Homo sapiens: one gene and its partners. The protein of the gene in region 1 purifies or fractionates together with the protein of each later gene. This does not show direct contact. Each region holds a gene or a part of one and is shown in the gene's direction. Other genes may lie near its edges.

Region 1 (3,210 bases):
CATTAGTCTTCCTAACATCTTAGGAACTTTGTACATGCTGTTCACTTTGCTTGGATTATTCATCTTCAAGTCTCAATAGGGTGGCCTCCCTCAGGAAGCCATGATCCCTCAAGATAAGTCAGCCTTGCCACCTCCGACTTCGATAGCTCTGTGTTCTCCTTAGCATTTTACACAGCCTGTCATAATACATTTTTTATTGCCTGTCTTCCCCTCTGGACTGAGTCCTGTGACAGCAGAGCCTGGAGCTGTCTTGGTTGCCACCATGTGCCCAACATTGTACAACATTTATCTGAGCACCTGGTAGGTGGTCAACAAATAGGGAGGGAAGGGATGAATTAATCTGATGTTACAGAAGTTATCTTTACCCTGAAAGCACAGTGAGCTATGGGTTTTAAGCAGGGCAGACATAATACAATTTGAGCTCCGAGCATTCCAGACCTTTGCACGTGCTATTTCTTCTATTTACTATGCCTTCCTTCTCTATCTTTGTTTGGCTCAGTTCTACTAATTTCTCAAGGTCTTATCCTTTGCAGGATGCTTTCCCTGAGCCCATCATGTTTCCTCTGGGATCCCTGCCTTGTGGCCTTTTTCCATCACAGCCCTGATCACTGTGGGCTATCACTGTCAGGGGACTGTGTGAGTCTGTCTGCCAGGACTGTAAACTCCTCGAAGGGAGTATTAGAAATGTTCTGGTCATCACTGAGGAAAGCTTTGAAAATGATTATTGAAGGAGAGTGGTGGGCTGCCTGTATACCCACACTTACAGGTATCTCCCTACACAGATGTCACCTGTGAGAATCCCAGATGTCCTTTCTCCCAGCTCCCAGCACTGCCCTCCCAGCTAGACCTATGTGAGCAGGTGTTTGGGCTCTCAGCCTTGTCAGTAGCCCAGGCTGTGGCTCAGACGAACTCCTACTACGGTGGCCAGACCCCTGGGGCTAACAAAGTGCTGTTTGTTAATGGTGAGCATGCTATCAAAACCTGGCTGCTAAGCCTCCACCTAGCCCCAGCTCAACATAGCCTCATCCTCTCCCAGCACCCATCTACCTAGCCCCATCCTATCCTTTCTTTCCAGGGGACACAGACCCCTGGCATGTGCTAAGTGTAACACAGGCTTTAGGATCCTCAGAATCAACTCTTCTTATCCGCACTGGCTCCCACTGCTTGGACATGGCACCTGAGAGGCCCTCAGACTCCCCCAGCCTCCGCCTAGGGCGCCAGGTAAGAGAAAAAAGGCTCTGAATCATTTGCATTCTCATTTGAATAATCACTTGCATGTTCCCTCCTTCTGCTGGTGCTGAAATCTGACTTTCAAATTCTTCCCACCTCCCCACAGAACATCTTCCAGCAGCTACAGACCTGGCTCAAGCTGGCAAAGGAGAGCCAGATTAAGGGTGAAGTCTGAATCTCATACCCTTTCCACTCCCTGCATGGTCACCTCAGTCCTGGACATACTTGTTCACTGAACAAAAGAAAGCAGCTTGTTTTGAAAGAAGAAACTCCCAGGAATTGGAATTCAGCACCTGTTCCGCACGTAATTGGCATGTGTCTGCAAACATCCTTATTCCCAACTTAAAGTGCTTTATTGCAGAGAGTTATGGAAATATAAGTGGATGATTATTCTCATTGTAAATATTGGTATTTTGAATGTTAAATGTCAAACAAATGTGACTTATGCTGGTGCCCTCGCCCTGCTGATCAGATTCTGGTTCAAATTCTGCCACTCCAGCTCCTGGGTTAGGGGCTTTGCTGTAAGTTTCTTTTTCTGGACTTTAGATCCTGAACCTGTCCTTGCTTCTCAGTTTCTCTCACTGTACCCCTTTCCCTCAGTCTCTTCCTCTCTCTTTCCCCTGTCACTATTTGTCTTTCTAATCTCCTTCTGTTTCTCTGAATATCTTCATTTCTATCTCTGTGTTTCTGTCTATTTCTCTGTTTATCTTTCTGTCCTTCAATCTGTGTTTTTGTTTCTGGCTCTCCGTCAGTGTCTTTTTCTCTCCTCTCTCTCTTGCTCTGCCATGGCTATTTCCACTGCTCTATTTCTGACTCTCATTTTTGGTCTCTGTGTGTCTCCTAGTCACTTTCTTTCTCACTCTGTCTCTGTCTCTATTTCTGTCTCTCCTCTGCTGTGTCCTCAATCTCTCTGTCTCCCTGAGGCTCTATTTCTGTCTCTCCTCTGCTGTGTCCTCAATCTCTCTGTCTCCCTGAGGCTCTATTTCTGTCTCTGATGCTCTTCTTCTGTGTCTCTATTTCTCTTCCTGTCACTTAATCTTTTCCTTCTCTATCTCTCTTATTTAGTCTTCCTTCCACACCCTTCACTCACCATCTTTTCCCACAATCAAATATCACTCCCTGGTACTTCCAGCTTCCAACTCTAGGGATTCATGATTCTGGTGGAGATTCCTTCTTCCAGGGCCTGGGAGGATAGGGCTAATCCCAAGGGTGCCTGCTTAGGCTATGTTAGCTGTGACAGGAACCTGCCATAGATTTGCACTGTTCTTTCCTAAAGATCAATTATTTTCAGCAATAAATACTTCTCAGCTTTTTGTATGTCTTTGTATGCACAGAGATGGTAGTTTTAGAGTTTTATCCAGTTTCATATTTCCTTGTGGGTAAGAGGCAACCTCCTCATGCTGTCATACCAAAGTCAATCTCCACTACACTTTAGTTCTGCCTGTTCTTGATCTTTATATAAATGGAAACTTGCAGTATATATTATATGTTTTTGTGTCTAGAAGTTTGAAATCAAGGTGTCAGCAGAGCCATTCTCTTTCTCACAGCTCTAGGGGAGAATCCTTCCTTGCCTTCTAATCCTTCCTTGACCAAAAATGAGAGTCAAAAATAGAGCAGTGGAAATAGCCAGGGCAGAGCAAGAGAGAGAGGAGAGACAAAGACACTGACGGAGAGCCAGAAACGAAAACACAGATTGAAGGACAGAAAGATAAATAGAGAAACAGACAAAAACACAGAGATAGAAATGAAGATATTCAGAGAAACAGAAGGAGATTAGAAAGACAAATAGAAAATGCTTCTGTGCTTCTTCTGGCTTCTGGTGTTTGCCAGCATTCCTGTGTTCCTTGGCCTGTAGATGCATTACTCCAGTCACATGGCCATTTTCCCTGTGTGCCTTCACATCACCTTCCTTCTGCATGTGCCTATCCATGTGTCCAAATTTCCCCTTTTATGAGGATACCAGTTATCTTGGGCTAGGCC
Region 2 (2,862 bases), on another chromosome or scaffold:
TGGTGGTAGGTCCTATTATCTAACTTCAAGTCCCTGCTCTGCCATTTAGTAGTAAATCACATAATTCCGTCATGTTTCTGTTTCCTCATCTGTAAAATGGATATAACAGTACTTACCTCATATGTTGTTCTGAAGAATAAGGCTTTAATCTCTGTAAAATGTTTACAACAGCACTTAGTGAGTTATTTGTAAATGTATACAACCATAATGATGTTATTGTTGTCTTATGTTTTACCAGACTGGCCCAAAGTCCAAAGAACATATTATTCAAGCAGTGCGATTCCATGTTAAACATGAGTCAAATTTAGCTGAAGGAGCAAGTTTGGACAAGATGCCTAAAGCACAGCAGTTTTTCACAATGTTAGAATTGATAAGTGCTGTAATGTATCTGAAAATATAAGTAATAAGTAGGTTTGCAGTGGTGTGCTAAAGCCAGCTTATAGACATGCAGGAACCAATTGTTAGTTGACGTGTTGATGGCTTCAAACCAGTCAGTGAAAGTATTTACATTATGGAAATCAGGAACTTTTTTCCTCACAAAGAAAGATTGTTGTTAAAAATTTACCTGCTCACCACTGGATTTGGGACGTCTGAGGGTATGAGGCATTTGGTTGGTGGAATCATGCTACTACATCCTTTTGCACTCTTGGCTTGGGTGTGTGTCTTTTCATTTCATCAGCTGTCCTAAATTCTGGAAGAAACCTGTCAGGGTAAAGTGTGTATTCTGTCTTTGGCTCAAAAAATTATAGGAATGCTGACCCCAGTTGCACATGATTCTCTATCAGCCTAATACCTAAACAGGAAATGCTTTAAAGTATCCTAAGTTCCAGCTCAACCTTCTTTTTAGCTATGTGATGAAGGCAAAGCTTTAGCCGTAATGACTCTCAATGTTAACATTAAAAAAAAAAAAAAAAAAGGTAGACGTAGAGAAGCTGGCACAGATGAAACCCCAATGAATGTTTTTGTATTCCTTTTTTAAAATGGCATTTGCAAACATTCAGTCAATGTGTGAAGTTTGTATCTATCACAGAATACACAAAGAAAATCACCTCTGCTGCCTTGCCTGGGAGAACTCAAGCCAAGCTTCCCTCTACCAAATCTCACTTCTGGAGACAGAGGCCTGCAATTGTTCTTATCAGAAAGTTTCTGTTGAAGGATATTCTTTAAAAATGTAATTTATCTCTTTAGAGTCATTTTGAATATGGGGAAAAGAAGAAGAGATTCTCTTTCCCCTCTAAGATTAAGACCCACTGCTAGCCAGTTGTTAGGTGTTTTTGAGAACCACGGCCCTCAATTTTTGACAGTGAGCTCTATCTACTTTCAGACTCTTGTTACCACCCTGATTAATAACAACTTTTTCTAAGAACTTCATCTATTCTAGGCATTACTTTGAGCATTGCTTGCATTAATCCTCATGCCAACTCTATGAAGTAGGGTTATCAGCCCATTTTACAAAGGAGAACACTGATTCATAGAGGGGTTAAGTGATTTTTAAATAAGCTTTGGAGCTAGAATTCTGAATATGAGTAATCTGACTTCATATCTCACTTTTGGCTACATTGTTCATTTCACACACTTCTAGTCAACTGACATTTAAGCCAAATGTATACAGAAGACTGTATCATATAAAGACAATGTGAAAAATGGCAAGAAAATTTTGTTTTAAAGAAGGCGGCCTGGCGCGGTGGCTCATGCCTGTAATCCCAGCACTTTGGGAGGCTGAGGCGGGCGGATCACCTGAGATCAGGAGTTCGAGACCAGTTTGGCCAACAAGGCAAAACCCCATCTCTACTAAAAATATAAAAATTACCTGGGTGTGGTGGCCCATCCACGTAATCCTAGCTACTTGGGAGGCTGAGGCAGGAGAATTGCTTGAACCTGGGAGGCAGAGGTTGCAATGAGCTGAGATTGTGCCACTGTACTCCAGTCTGGGCAACAAGAGCGAAACTCCGACTCAAAAAAAAAGCTAATATTGTGACTTTGGTAGTGGGAGAGTGGGGAAGGCCATGGATTTAATTTTTTGCTGAACGATGATTTTCTAAAATGTCCTCCTCCTCCCTCTTTCCAGGTGGCAGATATCTACCTAGCATCTCAGTACACATCCTATGCCATAAGTGGTCCCACAGTACAAGGTGGCCTCCCTGTTTTTCGCTGGGACCGTTTCAACAAAACTCTACATCAGGGCATGCCAGAGGTCTACAACTTTGATTTTATTACCATGAAACCAATTTTGAAACTTGATATAAAATGAAGGAGGGAGATGACGGACTAGAAGACTGTAAATAAGATACCAAAGGCACTATTTTAGCTATGTTTTTCCCATCAGAATTATGCAATAAAATATATTAATTTGTCACTTTCATTTCCCACTGACTTTGTTGTTTTTACAGTAAGCACTCACTATAAGGTAGAGCACTGTAGAAGAAATGTTACATATATATATAAATAACACTAAGCTTCGGCATACATGCTAATACACAAGAGGGTATGGAAGAAACAGCTCCTTCATTCACCAGAATTCATGTTCTCCTTTCACGCCTGCTCACACAGACCACATCTCCCAGTGTCCCTCAGATAGTTGTGCCACATGACAATTCTAGCCATTGGAACCTGAGACGAGTGCCACTTCCAGGCCTCGCCCATAAGAATCTGTACTCCTCCTATGCTCTTTCCCCTTTCCCTGGATGAATATGCCTAATGACAAAACCCTAGGGGATGCTGGAGCTTCGTTTTCAAAGGAACCTCTAGTAGTAGTTGGTGATTGTAGTTAGTGATTTTTCTGGTCATTAACAGGCATAAGTTGAGTCTTTTTGTGATGTAGGTTAGGCATACAATACAGTAAAGCTTACTGTTGCCTCCTAT
Region 3 (2,609 bases), on another chromosome or scaffold:
GTAAGCATTTTAGTTCTCATAACTCCTCTCTCAAGTAGGTGCTGCTATTACTTTCATTTCACAGATGAGGACATTGAGGTTTGGAGAGACTTAGTAACTTGTCCTCTGTCCTACAGCAGAGCTGGGATTTGAATCTATCTGTCCAAATCTGGAACCCATTTGCTTGCACAGAAAGCTTAATTGCTTGTCCCAGCAAGATAGAAAGCCTGGGAGTGGAAGAAATATTCAGTGGCTGTGATGTCTGAGCCCACAGGCAGGGTGGAGAGCTAGGGCTGGGGCCCTTGGACGTGGGGAAGAAAGGGCTGAGTCTTCCATTTTCAATGTGAAGTGTTGATATCTGGTGATATTGATCTAGGTCCAAAGGTGAAGAACTTAAACCCGAAGAAATTCAGCATTCATGACCAGGATCACAAAGTACTGGTCCTGGACTCTGGGAATCTCATAGCAGTTCCAGATAAAAACTACATACGCCCAGGTGACTCTCAGTTTTGGCTGTGTTTTCTGCCTCCACCTAGCAGGGGTAAGGCCTCCTGCTAGGTGGGCTCAACTCCATGCTATACCATGCCCCATCTCCAGCAGGTGGTGGAAGCGAGGAGGAGAGGCCCCAGGGACTAGGGCATCAGATGAAGGGTCTCTAGCAATGACCAGATCTGAAAGTAGTCTTTCTGGAAGGGCTGGAGAAAAAGAAGGAGGCAGACACTTAGACTGGAAGAAGAGGAGGCTTAAACCAGTGTGATGGAGGGAGAAGTGGACCACAGAGTCAAGGGAGAGGGACTGTGCATCAGGCCTGAAACCCCAGCAGACAGGAGAGACCTTTCCCTGCTCTCAGAACCCACACATGTTCTGACTGTCTTTTTCCAGAGATCTTCTTTGCATTAGCCTCATCCTTGAGCTCAGCCTCTGCGGAGAAAGGAAGTCCGATTCTCCTGGGGGTCTCTAAAGGGGAGTTTTGTCTCTACTGTGACAAGGATAAAGGACAAAGTCATCCATCCCTTCAGCTGAAGGTGAGAGTTCTAGCTCAGTTTCCTGGGCCTTTGGCTACCCCAAAGTAAAAGGCCAAGATCCTCAATGCCTCTCGCTTTCCTGCAAATTCTTATCTTGGCCAATATAACAGGGACATCCACCTTTCTGGAAGCACCAGGCAGAAGAGCCCCATAACTTCTTCTCTGGTTCCTTGCCCCTTCTAGGGAAGGAGGAGAGACTCCTCACAGCGGGGAGACAGCAAGGAGCTGAGCACCTGTTCTCCTCTCCTGGGCTCACTGGTCCTGGCCCTGGGCGGGTGGCGGTCCCCTCCTGCTGTGGCCCTCCATGTGGCAAGCAACACAATTGGGCCAGGACCCTGGCGTGCTGCTGTAGGGTAGGAGGGTGTGAGGGAGCACTCGGAGGGCAGTGTGTCTGCCCTGCAAATTTAGTCCTGGATGGAGCACCTTTCACTTGAGGGGAGAAATCTTAGGAAGCTGAATTAGATACAGATCTAAGCCATATTCTCTAATTTTAAAAACTATAGAGCTGAGATTTTGGTATCCATCTGACTCTTACGTCTCTCTCTCTCTCTCTCTCTCAGTTTATTTTTAATCTGGGGGACAAGAAGGCCTGGAAAAGAGGGCAGGATTGCTTATCATCCCTTAAATACCAGTACCAAGGCTGACACGTCATCTTTCCCAAGGACCATCTGCCTTCTCTCTTTTCCTCCTCTCCTGTGTAAAGGCCTGGAGGATGAGCACATGTGCTGTGTTTTCCTCCCTCTCAAAGCCTGTGCTATCTAATTAATCCCTTTTACCTCACAGAAGGAGAAACTGATGAAGCTGGCTGCCCAAAAGGAATCAGCACGCCGGCCCTTCATCTTTTATAGGGCTCAGGTGGGCTCCTGGAACATGCTGGAGTCGGCGGCTCACCCCGGATGGTTCATCTGCACCTCCTGCAATTGTAATGAGCCTGTTGGGGTGACAGATAAATTTGAGAACAGGAAACACATTGAATTTTCATTTCAACCAGTTTGCAAAGCTGAAATGAGCCCCAGTGAGGTCAGCGATTAGGAAACTGCCCCATTGAACGCCTTCCTCGCTAATTTGAACTAATTGTATAAAAACACCAAACCTGCTCACTAAACTTTCTGTCATTGGGTTTCATTTCTCATTCATGCTTTAAGGATTTGTGTTTTTAGGATATAGCAAGAAGCTTGTTTAATTACAAAGTTCTGGGTTGGAAAGAGACCGGCTTCTGCTTGTGTACTGCTACCCTGAACCATCAGACATGCATGTGTGTGTCATATGCTATGATGTGGCCAGTCTGAGTGCAATACTTGCAGTGGGAAGGAGCAGCTGGGTGCATGCTGTGCTCTAGAATTAGTCTTTCCTACTGGGGTTTGGTAGATTCTGAGGGCATTGATCCTGGGGCAGAAGTGGCTGAGTCTGTGTCTAGGGTACAGTGTGCAAGAAAGAAATGTAACAGCAAGTCACAATCCAGCCAAGTGATAGTGGAAAAGGGGTAGTTAGGTCCCAGATAAGGAGCAGGGTGACTTGACCTGTGGGAAAGGCACAGAGACAAGGAATCTGGGTCAGATGACAGCCAGGAGACCAGGTGAGGGAGGAGCCAGGTACTGTCTGGGA
Region 4 (3,500 bases), on another chromosome or scaffold:
CCAGTGACAGTGAAGTGCACTCAGGGGGCTCACACAGACCACAATCACAAGAACAAACTCATGGCCAAGCCGGATCTCAACATGGAGAGTCAGGATCCACAGTTCATGGGAGACACGGAACTACTCATGGACAGACAGGAGATACCACTAGACATGCCCACTATCATCATGGAAAATCCACACAGAGAGGGTCCAGTACAACTGGAAGAAGGGGATCTGGCCACAGTGAGTCCAGTGACAGTGAAGTGCACTCAGGGGGCTCGCACACACATTCAGGACACACTCACGGCCAAAGTGGATCTCAACATGGAGAGTCAGAATCCATAATTCATGACAGACACAGAATTACTCATGGACAGACAGGAGATACCACTAGACATTCCTACTCTGGTCATGAACAAACCACACAGACAGGGTCCAGGACAACTGGAAGACAGAGAACTAGCCACAGTGAGTCCACTGACAGTGAAGTGCACTCAGGGGGCTCACACAGACCACACTCACGAGAACACACTTACGGCCAAGCCGGATCTCAACATGAAGAGCCAGAATTCACAGTTCATGAGAGACACGGAACTACTCATGGACAGATAGGAGATACCACTGGACATTCCCACTCTGGTCATGGACAGTCCACACAGAGAGGGTCCAGGACAACTGGAAGACAGAGATCTAGCCACAGTGAGTCCAGTGACAGTGAAGTGCACTCAGGGGTCTCACACACACATACAGGACACACTCATGGTCAAGCTGGATCTCAACATGGACAGTCAGAATCCATAGTTCCTGAGAGACATGGAACTACTCATGGACAGACAGGAGATACCACTAGACATGCCCACTATCATCATGGATTAACCACACAGACAGGGTCCAGGACTACTGGAAGAAGGGGATCTGGCCACAGTGAGTACAGTGACAGTGAAGGGTACTCAGGAGTCTCACATACACATTCAGGACACACTCATGGCCAAGCCAGATCTCAACATGGAGAGTCAGAATCCATAGTTCATGAGAGACATGGAACTATACATGGACAGACAGGCGATACCACCAGACATGCCCACTCTGGTCATGGACAGTCCACACAGACAGGGTCCAGGACCACTGGAAGAAGGTCATCTGGCCACAGTGAGTACAGTGACAGTGAAGGGCACTCAGGGTTCTCACAAAGACCACACTCACGAGGACACACTCACGGCCAGGCTGGATCTCAACATGGAGAGTCAGAATCCATAGTTGACGAGAGACATGGAACTACTCATGGACAGACAGGAGATACCAGTGGACATTCTCAATCTGGTCATGGACAGTCCACACAGTCAGGATCCAGTACAACTGGAAGAAGGAGATCTGGCCACAGTGAGTCCAGTGACAGTGAAGTGCACTCAGGGGGCTCACATACACATTCAGGACACACACACAGCCAAGCCAGGTCTCAACATGGAGAGTCAGAATCCACAGTTCACAAGAGACACCAAACTACTCATGGACAGACAGGAGATACCACTGAACATGGCCACCCTAGTCATGGACAAACCATACAGACAGGGTCCAGGACAACTGGAAGAAGGGGATCTGGCCACAGTGAGTACAGTGACAGTGAAGGGCCCTCAGGGGTCTCACACACACATTCAGGACACACTCACGGTCAAGCTGGATCTCACTATCCAGAGTCAGGATCCTCAGTTCATGAGAGACACGGAACTACTCATGGACAAACAGCAGATACCACTAGACATGGCCACTCTGGTCATGGACAGTCCACACAGAGAGGGTCCAGGACAACTGGAAGAAGGGCATCTGGCCACAGTGAGTACAGTGACAGTGAAGGGCACTCAGGGGTCTCACACACACATTCAGGACACGCTCATGGCCAAGCCGGATCTCAACATGGAGAGTCAGGATCCTCAGTTCATGAGAGACACGGAACTACTCATGGACAGACAGGAGATACCACTAGACATGCTCACTCTGGTCATGGACAGTCCACACAGAGAGGGTCAAGGACAGCTGGAAGAAGGGGATCTGGCCACAGTGAGTCCAGTGACAGTGAAGTGCACTCAGGGGTCTCACACACACATTCAGGACACACTTATGGCCAAGCCAGATCTCAACATGGAGAGTCAGGATCTGCCATTCACGGGAGACAGGGAACTATACATGGACAGACAGGAGATACCACTAGACATGGCCAGTCTGGTCATGGACAGTCCACACAGACAGGTTCCAGGACAACTGGAAGACAAAGATCTAGTCACAGTGAGTCCAGTGATAGTGAAGTGCACTCAGAGGCCTCACCCACACATTCAGGACACACTCACAGCCAAGCCGGATCTCGACATGGACAGTCAGGATCCTCAGGTCATGGGAGACAGGGAACTACTCATGGACAGACAGGAGATACCACTAGACATGCCCACTATGGTTATGGACAATCCACACAGAGAGGGTCCAGGACAACTGGAAGAAGGGGATCTGGCCACAGTGAGTCCAGTGACAGTGAAGTGCACTCATGGGGCTCACACACACATTCAGGACACATTCAGGGCCAAGCTGGATCTCAACAAAGACAGCCAGGATCCACAGTTCATGGGAGACTGGAAACTACTCATGGACAGACAGGAGATACCACTAGACATGGCCATTCTGGTTATGGACAATCCACACAGACAGGTTCCAGATCTAGTAGAGCAAGTCATTTTCAGTCACATAGTAGTGAAAGGCAAAGGCATGGATCAAGTCAGGTTTGGAAACATGGCAGCTATGGACCTGCAGAATATGACTATGGGCACACTGGGTATGGGCCTTCTGGTGGCAGCAGAAAAAGCATCAGTAATTCTCACCTTTCATGGTCAACAGACAGCACTGCAAACAAGCAACTGTCTAGACATTGACAGTTATTTTCTAGTTCTGACCTTATAGTATCCAAAGCAACTAAAAGAACAGGAAGACACAGTTTAAATCATGAACAGTCAATGGTAAGTTATGAACATTCAGTTGATTCTCAGTATCAGTCTCGACCTATTATTATAAGAAGTCAGGAATCTAGTCATGGACATTCTATAGTAACTCATAAACAGTCAAACAACACCTATGTTCAACCTGGATATAACACAGCCAGAAGGGAGGGATGTACACATAGCCAGTCAAATGACCACCTTGGATTTGGCCATGGACAATCCATATCAGTTCATGGCCATTCAAAATCTAGTTCAATCAGAAAACAGGAATCCCATACTGATAACAAAAAGCATTCAGAAGATTGGGAGAAAGACACTCATGAGCAATTAGGATCTAGGCATGGGAAGTTAGAGTTCAATACAATAGGTATACATGGATCTAGCCAGCAACATTTCGGAGATACAACTTTTCATGGGCAGGTAAGATCCAGCACAGGTTTTGCCAGATAGGTATTAAGTCATGGGCCATCAAGAGATGCCTAGGGTCAGTCTGGATTCAGTACCAATGAAAGACAAGTATACAGCCATGGCCAATCA
Region 5 (3,500 bases), on another chromosome or scaffold:
GGTGCTTAATAGACTCTATAGTGCTGTATAGTGGCTGTCATTTGTTGTACCCATACTATGTGCTATGTACTGGGCTATGTGCTTTTTTCCTAAAAAAAAATTTGGAATAATTTTAGGTTTATAGAATAGTTGCAGCAGGGCGTGGTGGTTCACCCCTATAATCCAGCACTGTGGGAGACCAAGGCAGGCAAATCACTTGAGGCCAGGAGTTTGAGACCAACCTGAACCTGGCCAACATGGTGAAACCCTGTCCATACTAAAAATACAAAAATTAGCCAGGCATGGTGGCGTACACCTGTAGTCCCAGCTACTTGGGAGGCTGAGGCAGGAGAAATCACTTGAACCTAGGAGGCAGAGGTTGCAGTGAGCTGAGATCACGCTGCTGCACTCCAGCCTGGATGACAGAGTGAGACTCTGTCTCAAGAAAAAAAAAAAAAAAAGAAAAGTTACAGAGATAATATAGAGTTTCTATATACTCCTGACTCAGTTTTCCCTGTTAGCATCTTATATGTACATATCTCCAACACTAAGAAACCAACATTAGTACATTACTGTTAACTGAATTCTAGACTTTATTTGGATTTCACCAGTTTTCCCATTAATGCCCTCTTTCTGAGCCAGGATCCAATCCAGGGTACTGCACTGCCATTGTTGTCATGACACATATAATTGTAGTCCCCCCTCTCCTCCAGCCTATGACAGCTTCTTAGTCTTTCCTTGTTTATTCATGAGCTTGGCAGTCTTGAGGAGTTGTGCCCTGTGCTTTCTGTATACAAACATCTTACCCTCACAATAGCCCTGTGAGAAGATATCATTATGTCCACATAATAAATGAGGAAATTTTGAACCCCTAGGGGGTTAACTTACCCATGGTCTTAGCTAGTAAGACTGGCTGAGCTGGGTTTTAACTCATACCTGTAGTACCCATATCTCTGCCTCCAGAGCTGTGCCTTTCCCCTCCGTCTTGTACCACCCCTTCCCACTAGTTGGCCTAGGCTGGAATGGCAGATATCTGGTGACCAGCCTGGCCTTGGTGGGCACTGCTAATCCATTACACCTCCCTTCCCTGATGAGCCTGGACTCAGCAGCAGAATTTGTCACTACAGAGACAGCTAGCCGGGCATTACCCTCAGGAAGCCATCTTGTTACGTCTCCCCCAGGGCCTGGGGAAAGAAGAGCTTAGGAGAGGGGAAGGGATTCTTCTCCGGTAGGTACTCTGGATACCCTACCCCCACCCCCAGCCCAGAATCAATTCTCTGTGTGGATCAGGCTGCCTTAGAATCTATGAAAACAGCCCCACCCAGAAAACTAGTCCTGCTCCTATGTTGCCCTCCAGCCTGACTCTTAATTCCAGGCAATCTTTCCCTTGACCACTTTCAGTCTGTTCACAACCACAAATCACAGTGTAGTACTGTCCTTCAGTGGGGTTCCACTGCCCCTATAGTAAATGCAACCTCCCGATTATAGCTTGTGGGGTCCTGCATTAAATGACCCTGCTACCCCTCCAACCTCATCTGGGTCCCTCATCTACTACATTTAGCCCATGGCCTTCTCCCAGTGCCTGGAGCAGCCAAGCTTCTTTGTGCCTCGGGGCCTTTGCCTGAGTTCCCTCGGCCTGCACTTACATGTCTGACTCCGCATCCTGCAAGAGCCCGGCTTAAGTATCACTTCCCCACCACCCTATGTAAGTGAGTCCTTTGTTGCTGTCAGCATTACCTTCTGCTCTTTTCCTTTGTGGCACTCACAAATCATAGTGGGTGATATTTATTTGCATTAGACGGTAAGCTCCTCAAGGCAGGGCAGGAGCCAGGTCTGATTGTTTACCACTCTTGCCACAGCACTTAGCCCAGGGCCTATCATCATTGCTCCATAAATATTTGTGGAATGAATGTTGAAGGAAACATTTAGTGGCAACTATCCTGTCCTGCCTTTCTTAGTCATGACATGACCTTTCATTCCAAGGGGTAGGAACCCATTCCTAAAAGCTCAGGTAAAGGGGAAGTTTATTACAGAGCTGCAAGACATCCCATGGAGCTGCCGGCAGGAAGCGGAGGCTAGGACGCTAATGGCTCCTTTAGTGAGCCGGCTCCCGTGTTGTGCCTGGCATTGGGTTATGAGCTTTACATACACGCTCTCGCCCTTGCAACATCCTGGAGAGGAAGGTAGAAATGCCTCCAGTTAAAAGATGTGGAAATTTAGACTCCAAAGGGGAAACTGGCCTATAAAATCACATGGTAAGTGTGGCAGAGCTATGATTTCCACCCAGGGCTGTTTGGCTAAAGCTGTCATTCACCCATGTCTCTCCAAAGCCATGCCCTTCACTGCTACTCCATACTGCTTTTATAGATAGGGAAGTGGGACTTGATCTGTTCCCTTTTCCACAGACCAACAGAGCCCTTAGCCCTTAGCCCTAACTTCTGCTTGGTCATGGATCACAGATCTAGATGGTCTGGCCTCAACCCAAAACTTAGGATCCAGTGACAGCACAAAACCCCCATATCCCCAGCCTTTTATACCTTAATTCCAAAATTGGGCAGAGAGAATCTGTCAGCCTAGCTGGGGTTAGGTGATCCCTCTTGAAAGAGTCAGTGATGGGAGTGTTGAAGGTGGGCATCAGCTTGGGGGTGTGGGACTGGCAGGTTTTCTCTCTGAGACAGGGTGTGGATGGAGGGCATGCCAACAGTCTCTCATAGGTGGCCTCCAGGGGGCTGGGAGAGGTGAGAGTGGGTGGGCAGAGAGTCTTCACAGTGTGGGAGGTGTTCAAGATCATCAGACAGGGTCTGTTGGAGTGCGGAGTGGTGGTCACATGCAGTCACATGCAGATGTAGTGGTGGTGGAATCAGGAGACCTGGGGGATGTGGAGGAGGAACAGGAGCAGCTCAGCACAGGGGTGGTGAGTGATCCAAGTGGGCATGTGGCATGAGAAGAGGGATGGGAAGAAGACACTGGTTAGGACTGGGGAAGTCCACTGGGGATTATTCATCAGCAAGTGATCCACTGGGGATCTTTTCATGAGTGTCCTATTCCTTTCTGAGTTAATCACCTGCCCCTTGAGAGTGGGATTTCAGATGCTGTTAGATTTCCCATTGTGTTTTGTGTTTCCCATTGTTCCTGGCTCTGGGTTGGGCACGGGGTGTGACATGAACAAGGTCCTGGGTGTGGGCTGCAGAGGTGAATCCTCCAGGAGCTTGCCCTCTGCTGGGATTCCAAGGCTGGCTGGAGAGGAGTGGGCAGCAGGGAGGTGGGAAGTCAGAGAAGGTGCCCACCAAAGGCCAATTAGGTCAGTCTCCTGTTTGGAAGTTCCAGGTCTATCATATCCTGCCTTATAGTTTACAATACACTTTTGGGAGATTATGTCTTTTGAGTCTTTTAGTTTAGTCCTGCCTATAAAATGAGTAGGATAAGTGTTATCCCAGCTTCATAGGTATGGAGTCTCATAGATGAGGCTCAGGGACGGGGGTGCCTCACCCAAGGTCACTCTGCCAGGAGCTCATTTTTCC
Region 6 (3,935 bases), on another chromosome or scaffold:
TTCCAAGATATAAGTACCCATTCATAATACATATTAGGGAGGTTTTTGTAAGTTTTATAGACATCTTATTTTATTTTATCTTATTTTATTTTATTTTATTTTATTTTTATTTTATTTTATTTTATTTTTGAGATGGAGTCTCGCTCTGTTGCCCAGGCTAGAGTGTAGTGGCGTGATCTCGGCTAACTGCAACCTCCACCTCCCAGGTTCAAGTGATTCTCCCGCCCCAGCCTCCCAAATAGCTGGGACTATAGGCATGTGCCACCACACCCAGCTAATTTTTGTATTTTTAGTAGAGACGGGGTTTCACCGTGTTAGCCAGGATGGTCTCGATCTCCTGACCTCGTGATCCACCCGCCTCGACCTCCCAAAGTGCTGGGATTACAGGCGTGAGCCACTGCGCCCAGCCTTATAGACATAAGTGAATATTTGCTGTTACTATGTTTATATGGCTTTTTAAAGTGATGTTTTAAAAGGCTTGTTTATAATGACAACCAAAAGTAGCCATTGTAAGGTTACACCAAAAGAAGGATCTCTAAATCCTTCTTGAGTTCCCCTCCTGACTCCTTGATTAGCAAATGGCTTCCATAAGCAACTCACGCTGGTTTAACTCAGGTTAGTTTACACCATTGGACCTTCCCAAATAGTACATTGTTTTTTTGAGATAAAGCATTGAGAGAGCTCTCCTTAACGTGACACAATGGAAGGACTGGAACACATACCCACATCTTTGTTCTGAGGGATAATTTTCTGATAAAGTCTTGCTGTATATTCAAGCACATATGTTATATATTATTCAGTTCCATGTTTATAGCCTAGTTAAGGAGAGGGGAGATACATTCAGAAAGAGGACTGAAAGAAATACTCAAGTAGGAAAACAGAAAAAGAAAAAAAGGAGCAAATGAGAAGCCTAAAAAGAAGGGAGGAGGAGAAGGAAAACCCAACACCCCCACCTGCCTCCCACTTCTTATCCAAAGGCTCAAAGTCCCACCCAGCTCCCTGCAACCATCACTTCTCACCACCTCCTCTGATTTAGCATCCTGGTGCCTACCTCCTATGTCCCTGTTCATCTAACAAACCAGCCCTCCCATTTCCACCCTGCAAATCTCTCCCGCCTGCCCCAGTCTCCCCATTTACACACCTAAATTGGCTAAAATCTCCCCATAAGTTTTTCCATTAGTCCCTCAACTGGCATGTAATAGTCCAAGTGGAAAGAAATTCAGTGGCAGTTCAACAACACAGAACTAACAGAGCTCTCTCCTCTGCCTTTGTCTGCCAGGGAGTACTTTGTGGAGATGTACTATCGGAATGAGACGCAGCACGAGCCGTATCCCCTCATGCTACCTGGCTGCAGCCCCAGCTGTCCTCTGGAGAGGTTTGCTGAGCTGGTTGGCCCTGTGATCCCTCAAGACTGGTCCACGGAGTGTATGACCACAAACAGCCATCAAGGTACTGAAGACAGTACAGATTAGTGTGCACAGAGATCTCTGTAGAAGGAGTAGCTGCCCTTTCTCAGGGCAGATGATGCTTTGAGAACATACTTTGGCCATTACCCCCAGCTTTGAGGAAAATGGGCTTTGGATGATTATTTTATGTTTTAGGGACCCCCAACCTCAGGCAATTCCTACCTCTTCACCTGACCCTGCCCCCACTTGCCATAAAACTTAGCTAAGTTTTGTTTTGTTTTTCAGCGTTAATGTAAAGGGGCAGCAGTGCCAAAATATAATCAGAGATAAAGCTTAGGTCAAAGTTCATAGAGTTCCCATGAACTATATGACTGGCCACACAGGATCTTTTGTATTTAAGGATTCTGAGATTTTGCTTGAGCAGGATTAGATAAGGCTGTTCTTTAAATGTCTGAAATGGAACAGATTTCAAAAAAAAACCCCACAATCTAGGATGGGAACAAGGAAGGAAAGATGTGAATAGGCTGATGGGCAAAAAACCAATTTACCCATCAGTTCCAGCCTTCTCTCAAGGAGAGGCAAAGAAAGGAGATACAGTGGAGACATCTGGAAAGTTTTCTCCACTGGAAAACTGCTACTATCTGTTTTTATATTTCTGTTAAAATATATGAGGCTACAGAACTAAAAATTAAAACCTCTTTGTGTCCCTTGGTCCTGGAACATTTATGTTCCTTTTAAAGAAACAAAAATCAAACTTTACAGAAAGATTTGATGTATGTAATACATATAGCAGCTCTTGAAGTATATATATCATAGCAAATAAGTCATCTGATGAGAACAAGCTATTTGGGCACAACACATCAGGAAAGAGAGCACCACGTGATGGAGTTTCTCTAGAAGCTCCAGTGATAAGAGATGTTGACTCTAAAGTTGATTTAAGGCCAGGCATGGTGGTTTACGCCTATAATCCCAGCATTTTGGGAGTCCGAGGTGGGCAGATCACTTGAGCTCAGGAGGTCAAGATCAGCCTGGGCAACATGGTGAAACCTGGTCTCTACATAAAATACAAAAACTTAGATGGGCATGGTGGTGTGTGCCTATAGTCCCACTACTTGTGGGGCTAAGGCAGGAGGATCACTTGAGCCCCGGAGGTCGAGGCTACAGTGAGCCAAGAGTGCACTACTGTACTCCAGCCAGGGCAAGAGAGCGAGACCCTGTCTCAATAAATAAATAAATAAATAAATAAATAAATAAATAAATAAATAAAAACAAAGTTGATTAAGAAAGGAAGTATAGGCCAGGCACAGTGGCTCACACCTGTAATCCTTGCATTTTGGAAGGCTGAGGCAGGAGGATCACTTTAGGCCTGGTGTGTTCAAGACCAGCCTGGTCAACATAGTGAGACACTGTCTCTACCAAAAAAAGGAAGGAAGGGACACATATCAAACTGAAACAAAATTAGAAATGTAATTATGTTCTAAGTGCCTCCAAGTTCAAAACTTATTGGAATGTTGAGAGTGTGGTTACGAAATACGTTAGGAGGACAAAAGGAATGTGTAAGTCTTTAATGCCGATATCTTCAGAAAACCTAAGCAAACTTACAGGTCCTGCTGAAACTGCCCACTCTGCAAGAAGAAATCATGATATAGCTTTGCCATGTGGCAGATCTACATGTCTAGAGAACACTGTGCTCTATTACCATTATGGATAAAGATGAGATGGTTTCTAGAGATGGTTTCTACTGGCTGCCAGAATCTAGAGCAAAGCCATCCCCGCTCCTGGTTGGTCACAGAATGACTGACAAAGACATCGATTGATATGCTTCTTTGTGTTATTTCCCTCCCAAGTAAATGTTTGTCCTTGGGTCCATTTTCTATGCTTGTAACTGTCTTCTAGCAGTGAGCCAAATGTAAAATAGTGAATAAAGTCATTATTAGGAAGTTCAAAAGCATTGCTTTTATAATGAACTTAGAAAAACGTATGTGTGTGTGTTTAATTAGAATAAAATTCCTCTAGGCAGATTTCAGGAGCTCCCTTTGTGTTTGGGGTTTTTGTTTTAGTATAACAAGATGGAAAATATTAATATAAAGTAAAATGATTTGACTGGCTTAAATGAACATTTTACATTGAAAATATAGTTTGGACTTTACCACTTCAGATAAAGGTGAAGCTGTGGATGGCTCTGCCTCATCTATTTAAGATGGAATTTGCTAAGGAAACACCCTCAGGAAGTGCACAATATACTAGGGAAGTAAAGAGATACATACTGTACAACATGGAAAAACCAGGGCTATGTCTTATGACTACACAGATTACTGTGGGAACAAGAGTTATCCAGATTTGGAGTAGGGGAAGTAAGGAAGGTCAGGAAAGGCTTTCTGCAGAAGGTAGCAACTGTACCACGTAAAATCAGTTTGAGGCCAGGCGAGGTGGCTCAGGCCTGTAATCCCAGCACTTTGGGAGGCCAAGGTGGGCGGATCACAAGGTCAGGAGATTGAGACCATCCTGGCTAACACGGTGAAACCCCAT
Region 7 (3,500 bases), on another chromosome or scaffold:
AGGATGATACTATACATAGTATATATCAATAGGATGATGCAGGCATACTAGTTTCATTCCCAAACTTGGAGATGAAAGCTTTCATTTCACCATTAAATATAATTTTTGCTATGACATTTTTCAAAGACATAATCTTTTATTTATTAATCAGAATTAATATTGGATTTTATCAATTTTTCATCTATTGAGAGGTTCATATAATTTTCCCCATTATTCTATTTCAGTACTTAATTGGTTGGTTTTCAAATGTTAATCCAAAAATGAATTTTGGAATAAAATGTAGTTAGGAATAACATATATTCTTTTTATATACTACTGAATTCAGTCTGCTATTATATTCTTTCAGAGTTTTGCATCTATATGAAAGGAATTGTCCTGAAAATTTTGATTCTTATATCGTTGTCAGGTTATGGTACTGAGGCCAGTTTGGATTAATAAAATGGGTGTTTCCTGTTTTTCATTTCTCTGAAATAATCTATGTGATGTTATAGTTATTTCTTTCTTTCACTTTGAATAGAATTCAGTAAAGCCATCTGACCTGCAGTTTCTCCCCCACTGGAAATGAATGCATTTAAGATTCAATTTCTTTAATAAACATAGTACTATTTAGGTTTTCTATTTATTGTTGGTTCAGTTTTGGTAACAAGTGTTTTTCTAGACATTTCTTCTATGTCATCTAAATTTTCAAATTAGCTGGTATAATGTTTTTTATAATATGCTCTTGTCATCTTTCTAATGTCTAAAACCTCGATAGCAATGTCCCCTTTTACTTTCCTGATATTGGTACTTACTCTTCTTTCCTTGATTAATCTTGCAGGGGTTATCAGTTTTATTAGATTTTTCAAAGGCTGAATCTTGGCACTGTTGGTTCTCTAAATTTTCTTTCTCTTTTATTAATTTTAGTTATCTTTATTATTTCCTTCATTATACTTTCTTAGGGCTTAATTTGTTCTTTTTAAAACTTCTTGAAATATATGCTTAGGTAATTAATTTTTCAGTCTTTCATATACATATATATACACACACAACTGTATGCTGCTTATAAGATTCACACATAAAAAATGATAACAGTGATTGAAAATGAAAGGATGGGAAAAAGAGATATCATTCATATATATATGTATGTGTTTATATACATATATATGTGAGTGTATATATGTATATATGTGTGTGTGTATATATATATAGGCTATAAATATCTATTAGGCATGGAATTAATGTATTCCACAAGTTATGCTATTTCATATTTTTCTCATTTTCATTTAGTTCAAAATATTTTCTAATTTTGCATTGTAATTTATTCAATGACCCATTGATTATTTAGAAGTCATTAATTTTCAAACACTTAAAGATTTTTCTAGTTATCTTCCTATTATTTAATGCTTGCTTCATTCCACTGTGTTAGAGAACAAACTCTATGATTTCAACCCTTTAAAATTTATTGAAACTTGCTTTATGGCCCAGTATATGGTCAATTTCAAAAGAATGGATATTCTGCAGTTGTTAGGTGTAGTGTTCAATGTATGTTGATGTTTTATTAATAATTTTGTAGAAATATTCTACATTCTTACATATTTTTTACTTCTTCTATCAGTTGCTGAGAGAAGTGTATTTAAATACCCCACTATGATTGTAGATTGCCTGGTCCTCCTTATACTTCTGTCGATTTTTATTTATGTATTTTGAGGCTTCCTGGAGAATTGATCTTTTATTATTATAAAATTTCCTTCTAGCAATATTTTTTGCCTTAAAGTCTGCTTGACAGATATGAATATAATAATAACAGCTTTCTTTTAGTGTTTGAATGGTATCTCTTTCTTCCACCCTTTCATTTACAATCATTTTAATCACATTTTATGTGTGTCTCTTATAAGCAGAATACAGTTGGTTTTTTTTAATCCAGTCTGACAGCCTTGTCCCTTAATTAGCATATTTACTCTATTTATATTCAGAGTTATTATGGAACTATTTGGTTTACATCTCTACAATATTACTACTTGGTTTCTACTATCTCACCTGTTCTGTATTTCTTTTTCTATTCTTGACTTTTTTGGATTAAGTTAATATTTACCAGTTAATTATCTTTATACAAAAGCTTATTAATTATACACTCTTTTATTATTATCTGCATCCTTGCCCTAAAAATTATAGCATGCATCCTTGATTTGTTAGGGTATATTATTAAGAAAAAAATACTTTAACCCCTACCCAAATAATACAAGTATCCTACAATACTTAACTCCATTTTCTCACTGCCTTATCTGGGATTGTTATGTATTTTAATTCTATTTATCTTAAATCCTGAAAGATTACTATTATTATTTTATGCAATCAATATCTAGCTATATTTTTCCACACATATGCTCTTTCCATTGTTCTTATTCTTTCTTGCTCCTCTGTGCTTCCAACTAGAATTATCCTTTAATATTTCCTTTACAGTAGGTCTCTGGTGATTAGCTCTGTTTTTCTTTGCTTGAAAATATCTTTACATGTTTTCTTTTTGGTGGATATTTTCACTGTTAACATATAACTTATTTTGCTTCAGAAAGATGAATATAACATTTCATCGTCTTTTAGCTTCCATTGTTTCTTTTGAAAAGACAAGTATCAATCTTATTGTCGCTCCTTTGAAGGTAATACAAGTGTTTCTCTGTCTGCTCTTAGGATTTCCTCATTGCCTCAAATGTTCAGCAGTTTTATTATTATATGTCTTGCTTTGGTTTTCTTTTATATCTCCTGCTTGGAGTTTATAATATCGTTTTGAACCTGTACCTTGATATCTTTCATCAGTTTTAGAAAATTTTGTCTTTTAATTCCCCAAATACTATATTTCCCTCTAAATCTGAATGTAAGCCCCAATAAATTGTCACAATCTTGATAGCTCTGTGATACCTTCAAACACACACACACACACACACACACACACACACATTTTCTAGTTGTATTCAGAGTTAGTCTGAAACTAATAAACAATTGCACAAAGCAATCTTTAAAAATCAAACCATATTAGATCACTCTCTTACCAAAAAATATCATCTAGTCTCATCACACCTAAAATAAAATGCACAAATGTCACCTTATTTAGAAGATCATTATCTGACCCGTCTGTATCTCTGACTTTATGTTGTATTACTCCTGCTTTGTCCACAATTTTCTAACTGAGTTGGTCTTTTTCTATATCTCTAACATGACAAGCTGATTTTCATCTTGGAATCTTTGCACTGTTCCTTGTGCTAAAATTCTCTAATTAACAAGGCTACTTCCTTCTTATTTTTCCATTTTAAGTTCAAATGTCCCCTCTACCACAAAACCTCCTTTCCTTAAAGTACCCCCAAATATTCTGTATAATAGCACTCTTATTTTAGTTATGTACATATCACTTATCAATATCTAATTGTTGAATTAATTTATTGTTTGTTTATTGTCTTCACAAAAGTAGGCAGGCACCTCATCTATCTTGTTCACTACTATATCTCCAAAGCATGAAACAGTGCCTAACC

What was found.
Region 2: the proteins of PRSS16 (region 1) and PLBD1 purify together in Homo sapiens (affinity purification with mass spectrometry; one large-scale study listed by BioGRID and IntAct). This does not show direct contact.
Region 3: the proteins of PRSS16 (region 1) and IL37 purify together in Homo sapiens (affinity purification with mass spectrometry; one large-scale study listed by BioGRID and IntAct). This does not show direct contact.
Region 4: the proteins of PRSS16 (region 1) and FLG2 purify together in Homo sapiens (affinity purification with mass spectrometry; one large-scale study listed by BioGRID and IntAct). This does not show direct contact.
Region 5: the proteins of PRSS16 (region 1) and GM2A purify together in Homo sapiens (affinity purification with mass spectrometry; one large-scale study listed by BioGRID and IntAct). This does not show direct contact.
Region 6: the proteins of PRSS16 (region 1) and ACP3 purify together in Homo sapiens (affinity purification with mass spectrometry; one large-scale study listed by BioGRID and IntAct). This does not show direct contact.
Region 7: the proteins of PRSS16 (region 1) and FLG purify together in Homo sapiens (affinity purification with mass spectrometry; one large-scale study listed by BioGRID and IntAct). This does not show direct contact.

What each region holds. Positions count from the first base shown.
Region 1 is NC_000006.12:27,253,911-27,257,120, forward strand, and holds the end of PRSS16 (thymus-specific serine protease), read left to right. Parts: intron 1-782; coding exon 783-962; intron 963-1,075; coding exon 1,076-1,221; intron 1,222-1,336; coding exon 1,337-1,405; 3' UTR 1,406-2,710; downstream 2,711-3,210. UniProt on the Homo sapiens protein: Protease that may play a role in T-cell development.
Region 2 is NC_000012.12:14,503,161-14,506,022, reverse strand, and holds the end of PLBD1 (phospholipase B-like 1 precursor), read left to right. Parts: intron 1-2,068; coding exon 2,069-2,251; 3' UTR 2,252-2,362; downstream 2,363-2,862. UniProt on the Homo sapiens protein: In view of the small size of the putative binding pocket, it has been proposed that it may act as an amidase or a peptidase.
Region 3 is NC_000002.12:112,916,774-112,919,382, forward strand, and holds the end of IL37 (interleukin-37), read left to right. Parts: intron 1-355; coding exon 356-475; intron 476-861; coding exon 862-1,004; intron 1,005-1,787; coding exon 1,788-2,036; 3' UTR 2,037-2,109; downstream 2,110-2,609. UniProt on the Homo sapiens protein: Immune regulatory cytokine that acts as a suppressor of innate inflammatory and immune responses involved in curbing excessive inflammation.
Region 4 is NC_000001.11:152,350,007-152,353,506, reverse strand, and holds part of FLG2 (filaggrin-2), read left to right. Parts: coding exon 1-2,897; 3' UTR 2,898-3,500. UniProt on the Homo sapiens protein: Essential for normal cell-cell adhesion in the cornified cell layers. Important for proper integrity and mechanical strength of the stratum corneum of the epidermis.
Region 5 is NC_000005.10:151,256,185-151,259,684, forward strand, and holds part of GM2A (ganglioside GM2 activator isoform 1 precursor), read left to right. Parts: intron 1-3,500.
Region 6 is NC_000003.12:132,355,407-132,359,341, forward strand, and holds the end of ACP3 (prostatic acid phosphatase isoform PAP precursor), read left to right. Parts: intron 1-1,279; coding exon 1,280-1,472; 3' UTR 1,473-3,435; downstream 3,436-3,935. UniProt on the Homo sapiens protein: A non-specific tyrosine phosphatase that dephosphorylates a diverse number of substrates under acidic conditions (pH 4-6) including alkyl, aryl, and acyl orthophosphate monoesters and phosphorylated proteins.
Region 7 is NC_000001.11:152,318,740-152,322,239, reverse strand, and holds part of FLG (filaggrin), read left to right. Parts: intron 1-3,500.